Linked DNA regions of Homo sapiens. The protein of the gene in region 3 purifies or fractionates together with the protein of the main gene of each other region. This does not show direct contact. Each region holds a gene or a part of one and is shown on either strand. Other genes may lie near its edges.

Region 1 (3,570 bases), on a different chromosome or scaffold from region 3:
TGGTCTCAAACTCCTGACCTCAGGTGATCCGCCTACCTCGGCCTCCCACATTGCTGGGATTACAGGCATAAGCCACCACGCCAGGCCAGGAAGGTAGCTTTTTAAAGATGAGCCAGCCTGGTGTAGTGGCTCTCACCTATAATCCCAGCACTTTGGGAGGCCCAGGTGGGAGGATGACTTGAAGCCAGCATGGGCAACAAAATGAGACCCCTGTCTCTAAAAAAATTTAAAAATCAGCCAGGTATGGTGGCACACACCAGTAGTCCCAGCTACTTGGGAAACTGAGGCAGTTTGAGGCTGCAGTGAGCCGTGATTATGCCACTGCACTCTAGTTTGGCAGCAGAGCAAGACCCTTTCTCAAAAGAAAAATAAGTAAAAATAGAAGTGAGCTGGGAGGCCAGGCATGGTGGCTCACACCTGCAATTCCAGCACTTTGGGAGGCCAAAGTAGGAGGATCACTTGAGCTTGGGAGTTCAAGACCAGCCTGGGCAACAAAGAGAGACCCCCATCTCTTTAAAAAAAAATACTAATTTTAAAAAATGAGCTGGGAAGTGAAGGAGAGGACACTAGTGCCCTGCAGAGGGAACAGCCAAAGCAGAGGCCTGTAGCATATTGGCAAGAAGCTGGAGTGAGCGGGAAGGGAGGGTGGCGACTGAGGCTGGAGAACCACCTGGGTCCGATTGTGAAGGGCCTTGCCAGTTTGACAGTTGCATTGTCATGACAACTTGAGGCCTGGCCCTGCCACTTATTAATGGCATGCCTGACCGTGAGCATCATCGTGTGACCGCCGAGCCTCAATGGGTGGTGACCACTGACAGGGAATACCAGAGGGGTGAGCATCTTGATTGCAGGACAGTGCAGGCCTTGCACCTCGAGAGACAGAAGTGGCTACGACTTGGGAGTCAGTGATAATTGAGTGGTGACAAGGCCCAGTTGTGGTTGGAGCTTGTGGGATAGAAGCTGATTTGGCCCAGGATTGATGATGCAGATTTGGAGAAGGTCAAGGGAAGGGCCTCCAGAGAGTGGGGTGGGGGCCCAGAAACGTCATGAAACTGCTTTGCAGGGCAGGTTGTTGGTTTCTCCCGTGTTACTAGTTGACCAAGAACTTGACCTGCAGGGGCTGCTCAGCCTTGACTCAGAGTGTCAGGAGGAACAGGGCCGCAAAGCAGAAGTTCTCTTTTTAAACCTTTTAAAATTTATTTTTATTGTGGTTTTGTTGTTGTTTTTGAGGCAGGATCTCACTCTGTCGCCCACGCTGGACTGCAGTGGCACAATCATAGCTAACTGCAGTATTGACCTCCCAGGCTCTAGTGATCCTCCCAGCTGAGCCCCCCGATTAGCTGGGATTGCATACAGGTGTGCATCACCATTCCTGGGTAATTTTTAATTTTTTTTTTTTTTGTAATGATGGCATCTCTCTGTGCTGCCCAGGCTGGTCTTGAACTCCAGGCTTAAGCAGTCCTCCCACCTTGGCCTCTGAAAGCGCTGGGATTAAAGGCATGAGTCGCCACACTCAGACAATTTATTTTTAAATTTGCATGTAGGAAAATTCATTTTTTCGAGTAGAGTTCTCTGAGTTTTGACAAACGGATAAAGTTGTTTGATTACCACCATAATAAAGATTGGAAAGTTCGCTCTCCCACAAACAGAAATACTCCCTCCTCCTGTCCCTGTGTAATCGACTTTTCCCCTCACTCCCTAACCCCAGCGACCACAGATCCATCCCTATGGTTTTGCCTTTTCCAGGAAGGCACAGAAATGATGTGGCAAGATGTGTTTGAGATTCACACAAGTAGCATGAATTGGTGATACCTTTTATTGCCAGGTGGTATTCTGTTGTATGGTGTATCCCAGTTTATCCATGAATGGCTTGAAGAATATTTGGGTTGTTGTAGTTTTGGATGATTATGAATAATGCCGCTCTGCACATTTATATACAGATTTTTGTGTGAATATAGATTTTCCTTTCTATTGCCTTAATACTAGGAGTAGGATTGCTGGATCCCATGCTAAGTGTATATTTCACCATAAGAAACTGCCAATCTGTTTTCCAAAGTGGCTGTCACATTTCACATTTTTGCATTCCCACCAGCAGTGCATGAATATTCTGGCTTCTCCACATCCCTGCCAGCACTTGACATTGTCTGTTTTGTTGCTGTTGGTTGTTTTTTGTTTTATTTTGCTTTAGCCATTCTAATAAGTGGGTAGCGGTGTCTCGATGTGGTTTTAATTTGACTAATGATGTTGAGCATCTTTTCATGTGCCTGTCTGCCATCCATATATATTCTTTGGTATAGTATCTGTTCAAATCTTTTGCCATTTTTGAAACCAGGTTGTTTGCTCATTATGTTGTTTTTGGTTTTTGGAGATGGAGTCTGGCCCTATCGCCCAGTTTGGAGTACAGTGGCGCCATCTCGGCTCATTGCAACCTCTGCCTCCCAGGTTCAAGCGATTCTCCTGCCTCAGCCTCCCCAGTAACTGAGATTACAGATGCCCACCACCACGCCTTGCTAATTTTTTTTTTGTTGTATTTTTGTAGAGATGGGGTTTCACCATGTTGGCCGGACTGGTCTCAAACTCCTGACCTCAGGTGATCCACCCACCTCGGCCTCCCAAAGTGCTGGAATTCCAGGCATGAGCCAGCACACTAGCCTGCTTCTGTTTTGAGAGCTTAAAAAAAAGTGTTCTGGGCCAGGCGTGGTGGCTCACGCCTGTAATCCCAGCACTTTGGGAGGCCGAGGTGGGCAGATGGGCAGATCACGAGGTCAGGAGATGGAGACCATCCTGGCTAACACGGTGAAACCCCGTCTCTACTAAAAATACAAAAAATTAGCTGGGCATGGTGGCGGGCGCCTGTAGTCCCAGCTACTTGGGAGGCTGAGGCAGGAGAATGGCATGAACCCGGGAGGTGGAGCTTGCAGTGAGCGGAGATCATGCCACTGCACTCCAGCCTGGGTGACAGAGCAAGACTCCATTTCAAAAAAAAAAAAAAAAGGGTTCTGGGTTGGGTGAGGTGGCTTACGCCTATAATTCTAATACTTTGAGAGGCCAAGATGGGAGGATCACTTGACACCAGGAATTCAAGACCAGCGTGGGCAACATAGTGAGACCCTATCTCGACAAAAAATAAAAAATTAGCCAGAAGGCTGAGGCAGGAGGATTGCTTGAACCCAAGAGTTTGTGGCTGCAGTGAGCTATGATTATGGCATTGCACTTCAGCCTGGGCAGTGGAGTGAGACTTTGACTCAAAAAAAAAAAAAAGTGTTCTGACTACAAGTCCCTTTTGCAAATGTTTACTCCAGTTGGTGGATTTTAATTCTCCTAGCAGTATCTTTCACAGAGCAAAAGTTTCAAATTTTGATGATATCCAGTTTATCCATTTTTTTTTTTTTTTAACGAAGTGGGCTTTTGGTGTTGTGTCTGAGAAATCTTTCCCCAGCCCAATGCCACAAAGATTTTTCTCCAAGAAATTTTATGTTTTTACATTTTAAAACAGAGGTCGGCAGATTTTTTTTGTGTGAAGAGCCAGATGGTAAATATTCTCAGCTTTTTTGGCCATACGGTTGCTAC
Region 2 (3,570 bases), 210 kb from region 3:
ATCAATTGGACACCTCAAGGGCACAAAATTGCCTGGAACTACAACCTTCAAGTTCAAAATTTCTACCTCCAGAAAGCAATGATGTTTCTAAAGATTCTCTTATTTTTTAATTGTGATTAGTAGATGTGTATTCCTACGTATTCTACAGCAATGAGAAATAAGGAGCACATTCTTTTTTTTTTTTTTTAATCAAATCGATTCTGACAAAAGGAGTTTATTGTCTTGCTTGTTAAAAGGCTGACCAAAAAGAAAGTAAGTCTGAATGTTTCAGAGTTGGGAGAAAGCCTGATTCCTTCTGACCCTGAGATATACAAGGAAACTGAACAAATACCAGGCAGCAAAATACTGAGACATTTACCACATAAGAAAGCATTCTTACATAGCAGTTGAGTACTGGGAAGGTTGTTGGGGAGGGTATTATTCACAAACAACTGTCAAAAGATATGAGACCACCGAGTTTTTCTTTTTCTAAAAATCACACTGAGTGATATTATTCTATCAAGAGGATATTCTGAAATACGTGGGCTATCGAAAAAGATGTAAGTACATTTTAAAAATGTTTTTAAAAGCATAGTCAAAACCATTCAAAAGAGAACTCACTCTGTAAAAACGATTCTCATATTTTTTCATGAGATTATCACTTGGCTACTTTAGGATATTTCTTACATGCCTGGTCTTCATCCTGACATATGCAGATGACACAAAATACTTGGGCTTATATTTTTACAGCTTCCTAAAATATAATGAAAACTATTTCCTCTGACACTTTGCCATGGGGCTCTAGGATACTTTTGATATATTTCCTAAAAATATTTAATTTAGATAACAAGGACCAATGACAAGCCAGAATTGGAACCATTCATTCTTTGAGGTCAGAAGTGGTATACTGCCAGCCCATTGAAGTTGAAATGGAAGACAATGTGGCTCAGGCCACAGGGTCAGTTGCTTCTCCTTTTTGGTAAGGTACTTCTTTCCCCACACTCTCACCCAAGTTATCCAGCCCCCAAAATAAACTGTTTCTGATAAAATTACTTTTGCTCTAAGTTAATTTTGTTTATGCATGAAAAATTATTGTCTTGGTCCCATTTCCAAAGGGAAGTAGTTGGATGCCAGCATACTTTAACATTTCGGCACATATACAAACCACAAGCTGTTTATTTCTACAACTCACGATTAATGTAAAACGTTGCTTTCCATGTGCTTTTTTTTCTTAAAGTTTTCAGTTTGGGCATATTTAATTGTGGATGATGGGTTTCCCTACCATTACCCTTAATTTGATGCTATTAGAATTTTTAAAAATCTTTTGTTTGAGGCAATGAATTGGGAACCTGGTACATACACTAGATTTTATGATGGCATAAGAAATTATAGCACATAAATTAATAACACTATAGTACTCCAAGTGCTGTTTAACAGATGTTTTACTGTGGGCTCTCCTTTACATCACTGGGTTAATTACCTAAAGAGGGACACAGAAAAAGTCAATGTGGAGCTGGCATCTGGACCACTCTTCACGTAAGGTGAATGGCTAAATCACCAAGGACAAGATACTTTTCTATGAAATAGGTCCTTCCTATCAGTAGGTTATTGCAGACTTTGCTCACCCAAATAATGACTTCCAATCTAACTGAAACTACCATTACCTTTAGTGAAATATCAATTAGGAATAAGGAAAGGGTTAGGTTTTGTAGGGTTTGAGTGATACTTAGAAGCGAGTCATTTTATGTTTGGTGGGTTTTGAATCATTTGATATACAAAACTTACTGAGTTAAAATTTGTGTTTCAGAAAACGGATTCCAATTTTCAGAGCCGTATGTCAGTGCTTCCTTAGAGAACTGGAGTGTTCTGGTCATCCTGAGAAGTAACAGGCGGAGGGATGCTCCATGATTATAATGTTTAGGTTAAAAGGTATGCTTGACTCCCAAGGTGTTCTGGGAATATTTTATGTGCCAGGACAATGCTGGGGCCCTGCAAAACATCAGTGATCTTGGGAAACCCAGAGGAGGTCAGAATACTACCTGGCAATCTTAGGCTGACCCCAGGAGGTTCATCAATCCGTGAATAATTTTTGGAGTTTTAATGACCTCCTGAGATAGATCTCCAAAATTACTCAAGCTAATCATGTCTCAGTTCTCATTAAAAAGATAAAAGAGGTGTTTCCAACACTACTGAAAATGTGTGTACATACCAAAGGATATAATACTCATTAGTATACCAGCATACAGAACACCAAACAATGGTGGATAGTTTCAAGGATATCAGAAGAGATGCCTTTTAAATTTCATATTGTATTGTGGATCCTGATTGGAACAAAAAGACTGTGAGTTCTGGGCAGGCCAAAGGCCTTGAAAAATAATGTTGATTTGAAGGGGCAGGGAGTGTGGAAGGCTTGTGTATGTCTGTTAAGTAGCGAAACAAAAAATAAAAACATTGTATTTATATATGTGTATAAATTTTAAAAGCCATTTAAACTGAACATTTGAAAAACATAAAACCTATTCATTAAACATATGTGTCTCTGAAAGTACCACTGACCCAATCCTAGAAGCTATTTTAATTTGGCTTTTCAGAGGCCCAAATTCTCTATAAACTTCTCCTTCCTCACAATCAGTAATTAAGACTGGTTCATTAATTTTGGACTCATGTATACTTTGTCTAATATCCTTTTATTTCTCTGCACCCCTCTACAACTCCTCCCCCAAAAGCCCCAAATCAGACTATGTTAATTTAACTGATTACTGTAAAGCCACAGCTAGATCCCAAATCTGACAAATATTCCAATTCATGAGACACCTATAGCATGTTATCTATATTTGTACACTTTATTTAAAAACAAATAATACACTTAGAGCCACCAAAGATGGATATCTTAATTAGCTTATCCATACCCTGAATTTACATAAGAAACTTCTTGCACCACAAAAATTAGCATTTGGATTAATTTACATTAATTGATGTAACTAAAATTTAAAATACCTGAAGATCAAACAATCTGGCCCAGGGCTCACCAGCTGGAGGACTGGGTGTGGAGAGAAAGGGTTATTTAGGAATCTGAATTGATGACACCCTGTGGTCAGCTCTAGTCAACTGAACTTGAGAAAACATAAAGTAACCAGCAGATTTCAATATTAAAAAGAAGTGGTTCCTCCTAAAAAAGGTATTAGATCATAGAGTTGGGATTAGGGTAGGGGATACCTATTAATCTGGGCTGGAAAAAAAGTGTGTGGAGAAGGGGAGTTGTATTGTTTTCTCACAAGAGGCAAACTTCAGCCAAACAATGAAGAGATAGTAGGGAGGGAGATGTGTGGTAGACCAAAGACTTTCTGATTGCTGATAATAACAAATTTAGCAGCTCTCTACAAGTCAATTAAAATACCATTCTCTGAGACATTTTCAGAGAGGAGCTAACTAACACCCACCCAGGGGGGAAAAATCATTCTACATTAACAAGGCACTCACTGGTTCACAGCCTGTTAAAAACCCAGGCAGACATTAGAATCTAAATTAAAATGATTTTGAAAATTTGCATCAGAGAGATGACAAGCATGTGGTCCTGGTTAAATTAAATCT
Region 3 (3,570 bases):
CTAACATAAAGTTTCAAGTAATTTAACTAAGCTAACGTAAAGGCACAGTTACCAAGTGATTTACATATAAACATTATAATAATCTTGCTATGTCTGGCTTATTAAATGCATTAATTAAAAACTTATTTCAGAATAGTATGTATTAAAAGTAAATACCTTTAGTGCACTAAGAACAGCAGTAAATATGTTAAGCTGCACAGCCTGCTGGCGGACACCTTTAGCTTGTTTAACACATTCAGCAAAGTGATCCAACATTTGTAATCTATAACAATAAGAAAAAAAAATCACATTAGTGACAAATTTTATTCCAATATGGCTCAAAAACGGATAAGAAGAGTACAAGTTAATTGTTTAGCAAATAATTCCCCATGCTATCTCTTTTCTATTTCATTCCCACAGCTAGTCCAAACCAGATCTCCTTCTCCCAAAATATTATATGGACATGCGGTTATTAAATGGAACAAGAAAAGAGTTTCAATTAACAAAATAAGGTCACAATTGCAGTGGTCTTCAACATTAACAGCACTGTCCAACAAAGCGCCTGGCATCTAGTAGACGCTCAAGGTTTCTTGCAAAGATAACAATCATTAATTATGTATCTCCGTGGAAGATTTTTAAGTTAGAAAATTTTAAATGTAGTATAATTCTTTTTCCTATTTTAAAAATACTCTTAGAATAGTACCTCATGTCCTAGCCTCAGAAGCTTTTGGGAAAGTTCAAAAAAGATTTAGCTTTGGCTAATTTTTTTAAATGTAAAAAACCAGAAGTGAATTGTTTTTTATATTAATAAAAAAGAATCAGTTTATTAAAAAAAAAAAATCCATGGCCATCTTAGATGATTTCTCTGTTTTTTTTTTTTTTTTTTTGAGATGGAGTTTCGCTCTTGTTGCCCAGGCTGGAGTGCAATGGCGCGATCTCGGCTCACCACAATCTCCACCTCCCAGGTTCAAGTGATTCTCCTGCCTCAGCCTCCCGAGTAGCATGCGCCACCACGCCTGGCTAATTTTGTATTTTTAGTAGAGACTGGGTTTCTCCATGTTGGTCAGGCTGGTCTCGAACTCCCGACCTCAGGTGATCTGCCCACCTCGGCCTCCCAAAGTGCTGGGATTACAGGCGTGAGCCACTGTGCTCTGCATTTTTTTTTTTTTTTTTTTTTGAGACTGAGTTTCGCTCTTGTTGCCCAGGCTGGAGTGCAATGGTGCAATCTTGCCTCCCTGCAACCTCTGCCTCCTGGGTTCATATGATTCTCCTGCCTCAGCCTCCCGAGTAGCTGGGACTACAGGTGTTCGCCACTACACCCAGCTAATTTTGTATTTTTAGTAGAGAAGGATTTTACCATGTTGGCCAGGCTGGTCTCAAACTCCTGACCTCAGGTGATCTGCCCACCTTTGCCTCCCGAAGTGCTGGGATAACAGGTGTGAGCCACAACGCCCGGCCCATTTCAGAAGATTTTGATAAAAAGAGAGTGAGAGAGCATTCTTCTAAAAAGAAATGATGTGAAACAAAGGAATCCAAGGAAGTTGGATTTAGTACTAAGACAATTATGACCTCAAGTTGGTAATAAAATCTCCCTGAGGTCGCTGTAAGGATTTAAAGCTCAATTTATACTAGTCTACAGGTCTCAGGTCTCAGGTCAAAGCATTATTCAAAACTCATATGAAGATACAGATTCAGATGTACGTGTATACATGCACATTTTGATGTACTTTAAAAAATTCTTAAAAGTAAGTAAGTACCTTTTGTGCACTAAGAACAGCAGTAAATATATTAAGCCGCACAGCCTGCTGGTTGAAAACCAAAGTAGGATCACTTCTTGCTTTTTACCTTTTTAATTTAACATTGTATCATGAGCATCTTCTATCAAAACACTGTCTCTACAAAAATGGACTTTCTATTATTTATTCACTTATCCTCCTACTGTTGAATATTTATGTTATTTATTATATGTTTATATTTTTAATAGAATTTATTTATTTATACTTCATCTTATTCTGTAAAAGTGATCATACAGAATTGAGATAATCCTGGATTTCAGTTATAGCTTTCATAACTAGTTGTATAACCTTGGGTAAACCAAACTCTTAGATATGGATGTCCTTAAGATTTAAAACCAAAATGTTGAAATAGATGCTTTATAAGATTCTTCCACCTTTAACATCATTTAACATTTATGTGGCAACCAAATGTTCTTAAAGATATTTGGGTAAAGTTTCATATTTAAACTTTTTTCTCCTCAAATTAAAAAGCAATTAATCAAGCAACCTACATATTAAAGACATTTTTTATTTTGTAATTTTTGTAGAGATGAGTGTCTCACTATGTTTCCCAGGCTGGTCTGAAACTCCTTGCCTCAAGCAATTCTCTTGCCTTAGCCTCCCAAAGCGCTGGGATTGCAGACATAAGCCACCACACCAGACCCAACAATACTTTTAAGGCATTTTAATTTTGTAAAGCTTTTAAGTTATCTGTGATGGTCTTGTATTAATTCATTTCTGTTTTCCTTTTGGGAAAATCACAATATACAAACTGCCTACTAAAGCTAGGAATAGTGTCTGTGGATACAGAATATACCAAACCAAAATGCTTCTATTACAAAAAGAACCAATTATGTTAGTTTCCAAGTTCTAGACTTGAACCATCTCACAAACGTTATTAGTGATTGGAATTTTCATCCATTTACTTCCTCAACAACAAAGTCAACAGGCTTAGCAAACTGATGTCCTTAATTTAAGATATAGTCAAAACCTATGTATGAACTATCAAACAAACTATTATAATGCATTTTTTTTTTTGCCAACAGTTGTCATTCTAGCATATATAATGAAAATTTTGTTATAAAATACAGTCCACAATACAACAGATATCAGATGCTAGTACACAGGGTCAAATCTTACATAAAGTCTCAAATTATGTGCAATTTGCATGCAATTTTTTTATCATGTATCTGTCACTTACATTAGTAAATCTGTAAGAGTACTGTTTTAAGTATTATAATAACTCACTTTATTGCAGAGTTAACTGGGATGAGAAAATCTACTTTTCGTTTAACATAATATATATTTAACAAAAATTACCTGATTGACTTTATACTAACCGGTGTTTATAAGAAACATGAGGAAACACTACACCAAAAAGGGCCACAGAAGCATCAATGACTGAGACTCCGAGAGGGAGGGGACCAGGTACTGCTTCTCCAGCAGGTATGCGTAAATAAATAGAGGAAGGATCATGCTCCAGAGCCCCACTTCCAGAGGCACTGTTTGGCTGGAGCTGCAAAAGAGTGAAATAAAAATTATTCAAAATCTACTTTAGGAAATCTACTTATTAAACATTGGGAATGAGGATTACAGCAGAGGAGAAAGGAGAAAAGGCAACAAAAAAAGAATGATTGGATCCGAACATTTGAAAACAGACCAAAATGTAATTTGGTCATTAAAAAATCATCAGTAACACCTTATACAAATTTTAAGAAAAGCTTTATTCATTCGAAAACATATTTACACCACCCACCTTATTGCGTGAACAATATACACAAGATCTTAATCCCACAATTATTTTAAATGGGGCTTT
Region 4 (3,570 bases), on a different chromosome or scaffold from region 3:
CTTTTTTCTGTTTTTTTTTTTTTTAAGATGGAGTTTCACTCTTGTTGCCCAGAATGGAATGCAATGTTGTGATCTTGGCTCACTGCAACCTCCGCTTCCCGGGTTCAAGCAATTCTCCTGCCTCAGCTGGGATTACAGGCGCATGCCACCACGCCTGGCTAATTTTTTGTATTTTTAGTAAAGACGGGGTTTCACCATGTTGGCCAGGCTGGTCTCGAATTCCTGACCTCAGGTGATCCACCTGCCTCAGCCTCCCAAACTGCTGGGATTACAGGCATGAGCCACTATGCCTGGCCACATTCTGCTTTTGTGGGTGTGCTTTTATTTATTTTTGGCAGAGATGGGGCCTCACTATGTTGCTCAGGCTGGTCTAGAACTCCTGGCCTCAAGTGATCCTCCCGCCTCAGCCTCCCAAAGTGCTGGGATTATAGGCACGAGTCACCACGTCCAGCCCGTTTTTTTTTTTTTTTTTTTTTGAGACAGGGTCTCACGCTGTCGCCCAGGCTGGAGTGCAATGGAGTGATCACAGCTCACTGCAGCCTTGACCTCCCCAGGCTCAGGTGATCCTGCCACCTCAGTGTCCGAGCAGCTGGGACTATAGGCGCACACCACCATGCCCAACTTTTTTTTTTTTTTTTTTTTTTGAGAGGAAGTCTCACTCTTGTCGCCCAGGCTAGAGTGCAATGGCACAATCTCGGCACACTGCAACCTCCACCTCCCAGGTTCAAGCGATTCTCCTGCCCCAGCCTCCTGAGTAGCTGGGATTACAGGCGCCCACCACCATGCCTGGCTAGTTTTTTTTGTATTTTCAGTAGAGATGGAGTTTCACTATGTTGGCCAAGCTGGTCTCGAACTCCTGACCTCAGGTGATCCGCCCGCCTCAGCATCCCAAAGTGCTGGGATTACAGGCGTGAGCCACTGCGCCCGGCCCTGCTTTTTGTTTTTGTAGAGATAGGGTTTTGTCATGTCCCCAGGCTGCCCTGGCCTTAAGTGATGCTCCCACCTCAGCCTCCCAAAGTGCTGGGATTACAGGCGTGAACCACCGCACCCAGCCCATGTGCTTTTAAATAAATAGCCATCCCCAAGGCTTTATACCTTGCCCCCATGATGACAGTTGTATACCTGCGGCTTGGCCTCTCCTCTGGGTTCCAGACCCTCCTGTAAGATACCTTCTCCCTAGTGACCCTCGGACTTCTCAGACTTCCCCTACTTTCAGCCAAGAGAAAGCCTTGCTTTCTACTTCCAAACTGTAGTAACACCCCCAGCCCTGACACCACCCTAATTCAGCTTCCCTATTTCAATAAACAGTGCTACTATCCACCCATTTGTTCCATCAGAAAGCCTAGAAGGGTTGATGGGGCTGGGAGGATAAAAGCAGCCCAGAAATTACCCTGAGTCCATTCATTCTCTCACACCTCTCTTCTCATCTACCAACAAGTCCCAACAGCTCTACCTCCAAAATATCTCCCTAAACCCACCACCAAGTTCTAAACCATTACAATCACTACACCCAGCTCCCAACACTTCATCTCACCCCCACCTGCTGTCCACGTGCCAATGTCCATATGATCATGGCACTCTCCAACTCAATCTCCAGGCCAGGTTTCTCCTACAACTCAGACTGAAGGTCCAACTCCCTACTAACACCTGCAAGGAACGGCTTAATGAGAAAACCAACTTTCCAGCCCAGGCTCCTGCCTCTCTCTCCCTTACCATAAGCACATCAGTCTTATCTAGGTTCCTGGAGGATATCACACCCAAAATTTCCCACTTCAGGGCCTTTGCATGTGCTGTCCTCTCAGCATGGGAGACTCTGTCCCCCAATTTGTCTCAAAGCTAGCTGCCTCTCACATTCCAAAGATTAACTGAAGTGAGTTAGAAAAGTCAAAGGGGAGAGATATATACACCTATTGTGTACCCACAACATTTTAAAGTAAAAAATAAAAACAAAGGGAAGATAAACCAGAAAAAGGGACATCAAAAAGAGGTGAAGAGCCTCTTTCAGTGAACAGTGAACAGTGTCGGCAACTGCAGGGGCAAGGAGAAGCCAAGAGCAGGGCAGAGAGAGGCCATGAGGGAAGGGTGGATGAAAGAACAAGACACAGGAGAAGGGTCTAGAACAAAATCAGTGGGTACAGTGACAAAGAGGGGGCTGCAGTGAAAGGCAGGGACTAAATGGAAGTGACAGACTTGGGGGAGCTGGTGCTGACAGGTCAGGGAATGAGCAGCAAATTGGGAGGAGTCAGTAACAAGAGAGTGGACAAAGCAGGTAGGGAAGCTGCGAGTACACAGAGTGGCAGGTCGGGGGACAGTACGGTGCATGGGGGAAGGTGACAGGCTGAAGGAAGAGATGATGGGGATGGAAGCAACAGGGCAGTGCGGGGTAAGGTGAGGTTAGATGACTGGTGATATCTCAAGCCGTGATGGGGAGCGCGACAGGAAAAGACGAGTAGTGTTGGAAAGGGTTAGGAAATAATGGAAAGGGGAATCAGTGATTGGACAAGAGGGGTGATGACAGCGGGCACTGAAAGTTCTCCCACTGACAGGCAGGAGAGAAGCAGTGGGGAGACACTGACAGGTGGGGTCACTAACAGCAGGGCAGGGTACTAATGGGTCCCTAACAGATAAGGGATGAAGGAGGTAGCATGAAAGGGGACAGGAACTGACAACAGGGGAGAACTGATGGGGAGGATCTGACAGGCACTAACACAGAGGCCGATAGCAAAGAGCGGAAGGGCCACAACAGGCAGGATGAGGGAGACACTTATGAGGGAAACTTACTGACAGTGGGGCTCACTGACAGAGGCACTGGCACTGATGGGGGGCACTGACAGAGAAGATCAATGACAGGTGGGGACATTGCTGACAGAAGGGGTCACAGAGCGCTTGGACTGACAAGGAAGGGCACTGGCAGGGGAGGGATTATGCGGTCAGTGACTGACGGGTACGGGTGGGGGTGCAGGCACTGATGGGAAGTGGGGACATGACAGAAAGAAAATAATTGACTGGGGGGGCACTGGCTGACGGGGGACAGGGATGCGGGACTCTGACTGGGGGACACTGATGGGGAGCAGAGTGGACTGACGGTGGGGGAGCACTGACCAACAGTGGAGGCACTGACCAGTGCGCGGACTGACAGATGCGGAGGCACTGACCGACAGGAGGAGCATGACTTGCAAGGGGCACTGACTGACGGTGGGGGGCACTGATGGGTGGGGTGGGGACTGATGGGTGAGGTGCAATGACTAGCTAGCAGGGGACACTGACTGGTGCAGGAAGCACTGACTGGTGTAGGGTGGGGGAACAGAAGGAGGGCACTGACTGGGGGGGCACTGACTGACTGGGAGGGAACTGACTGGAGGGGGCCCTGACTTGGGAGGAAACTGACTTGGGGGGCACTTACTGGAGGGGAACTGACTGGAGTGGGCACTGACTGGGGGCACTGATTTGGGGGGCACTGACTGGAGGGGGCACTGACGGGGGAACTGATTGCGGGGGGAACTGACTGGGGGGGCACTGACTGAGGGGAACTGACTGGGGGACACTGAAGGGGGCACTGACTGGGGGGAA

What was found.
Region 1: the proteins of HEATR5B (region 3) and ELAVL1 purify together in Homo sapiens (affinity purification with mass spectrometry, with the first as the bait; one study listed by BioGRID). This does not show direct contact.
Region 2: the proteins of HEATR5B (region 3) and STRN purify together in Homo sapiens (affinity purification with mass spectrometry, with the first as the bait; one study listed by BioGRID). This does not show direct contact.
Region 4: the proteins of HEATR5B (region 3) and PPP6R2 purify together in Homo sapiens (affinity purification with mass spectrometry, with the first as the bait; one study listed by BioGRID). This does not show direct contact.

What each region holds. Positions count from the first base shown.
Region 1 is NC_000019.10:7,995,608-7,999,177, reverse strand, and holds part of ELAVL1 (ELAV-like protein 1), read left to right. Parts: intron 1-3,570. UniProt on the Homo sapiens protein: RNA-binding protein that binds to the 3'-UTR region of mRNAs and increases their stability.
Region 2 is NC_000002.12:36,840,993-36,844,562, forward strand, and holds part of STRN (striatin), read right to left. Parts: 3' UTR 1-3,570. UniProt on the Homo sapiens protein: Calmodulin-binding scaffolding protein which is the center of the striatin-interacting phosphatase and kinase (STRIPAK) complexes.
Region 3 is NC_000002.12:37,053,346-37,056,915, forward strand, and holds part of HEATR5B (HEAT repeat-containing protein 5B), read right to left. Parts: intron 3,271-3,570; coding exon 3,095-3,270; intron 263-3,094; coding exon 157-262; intron 1-156.
Region 4 is NC_000022.11:50,346,270-50,349,839, reverse strand, and holds part of PPP6R2 (serine/threonine-protein phosphatase 6 regulatory subunit 2), read right to left. Parts: intron 1-3,570. UniProt on the Homo sapiens protein: Regulatory subunit of protein phosphatase 6 (PP6). May function as a scaffolding PP6 subunit. Involved in the PP6-mediated dephosphorylation of NFKBIE opposing its degradation in response to TNF-alpha.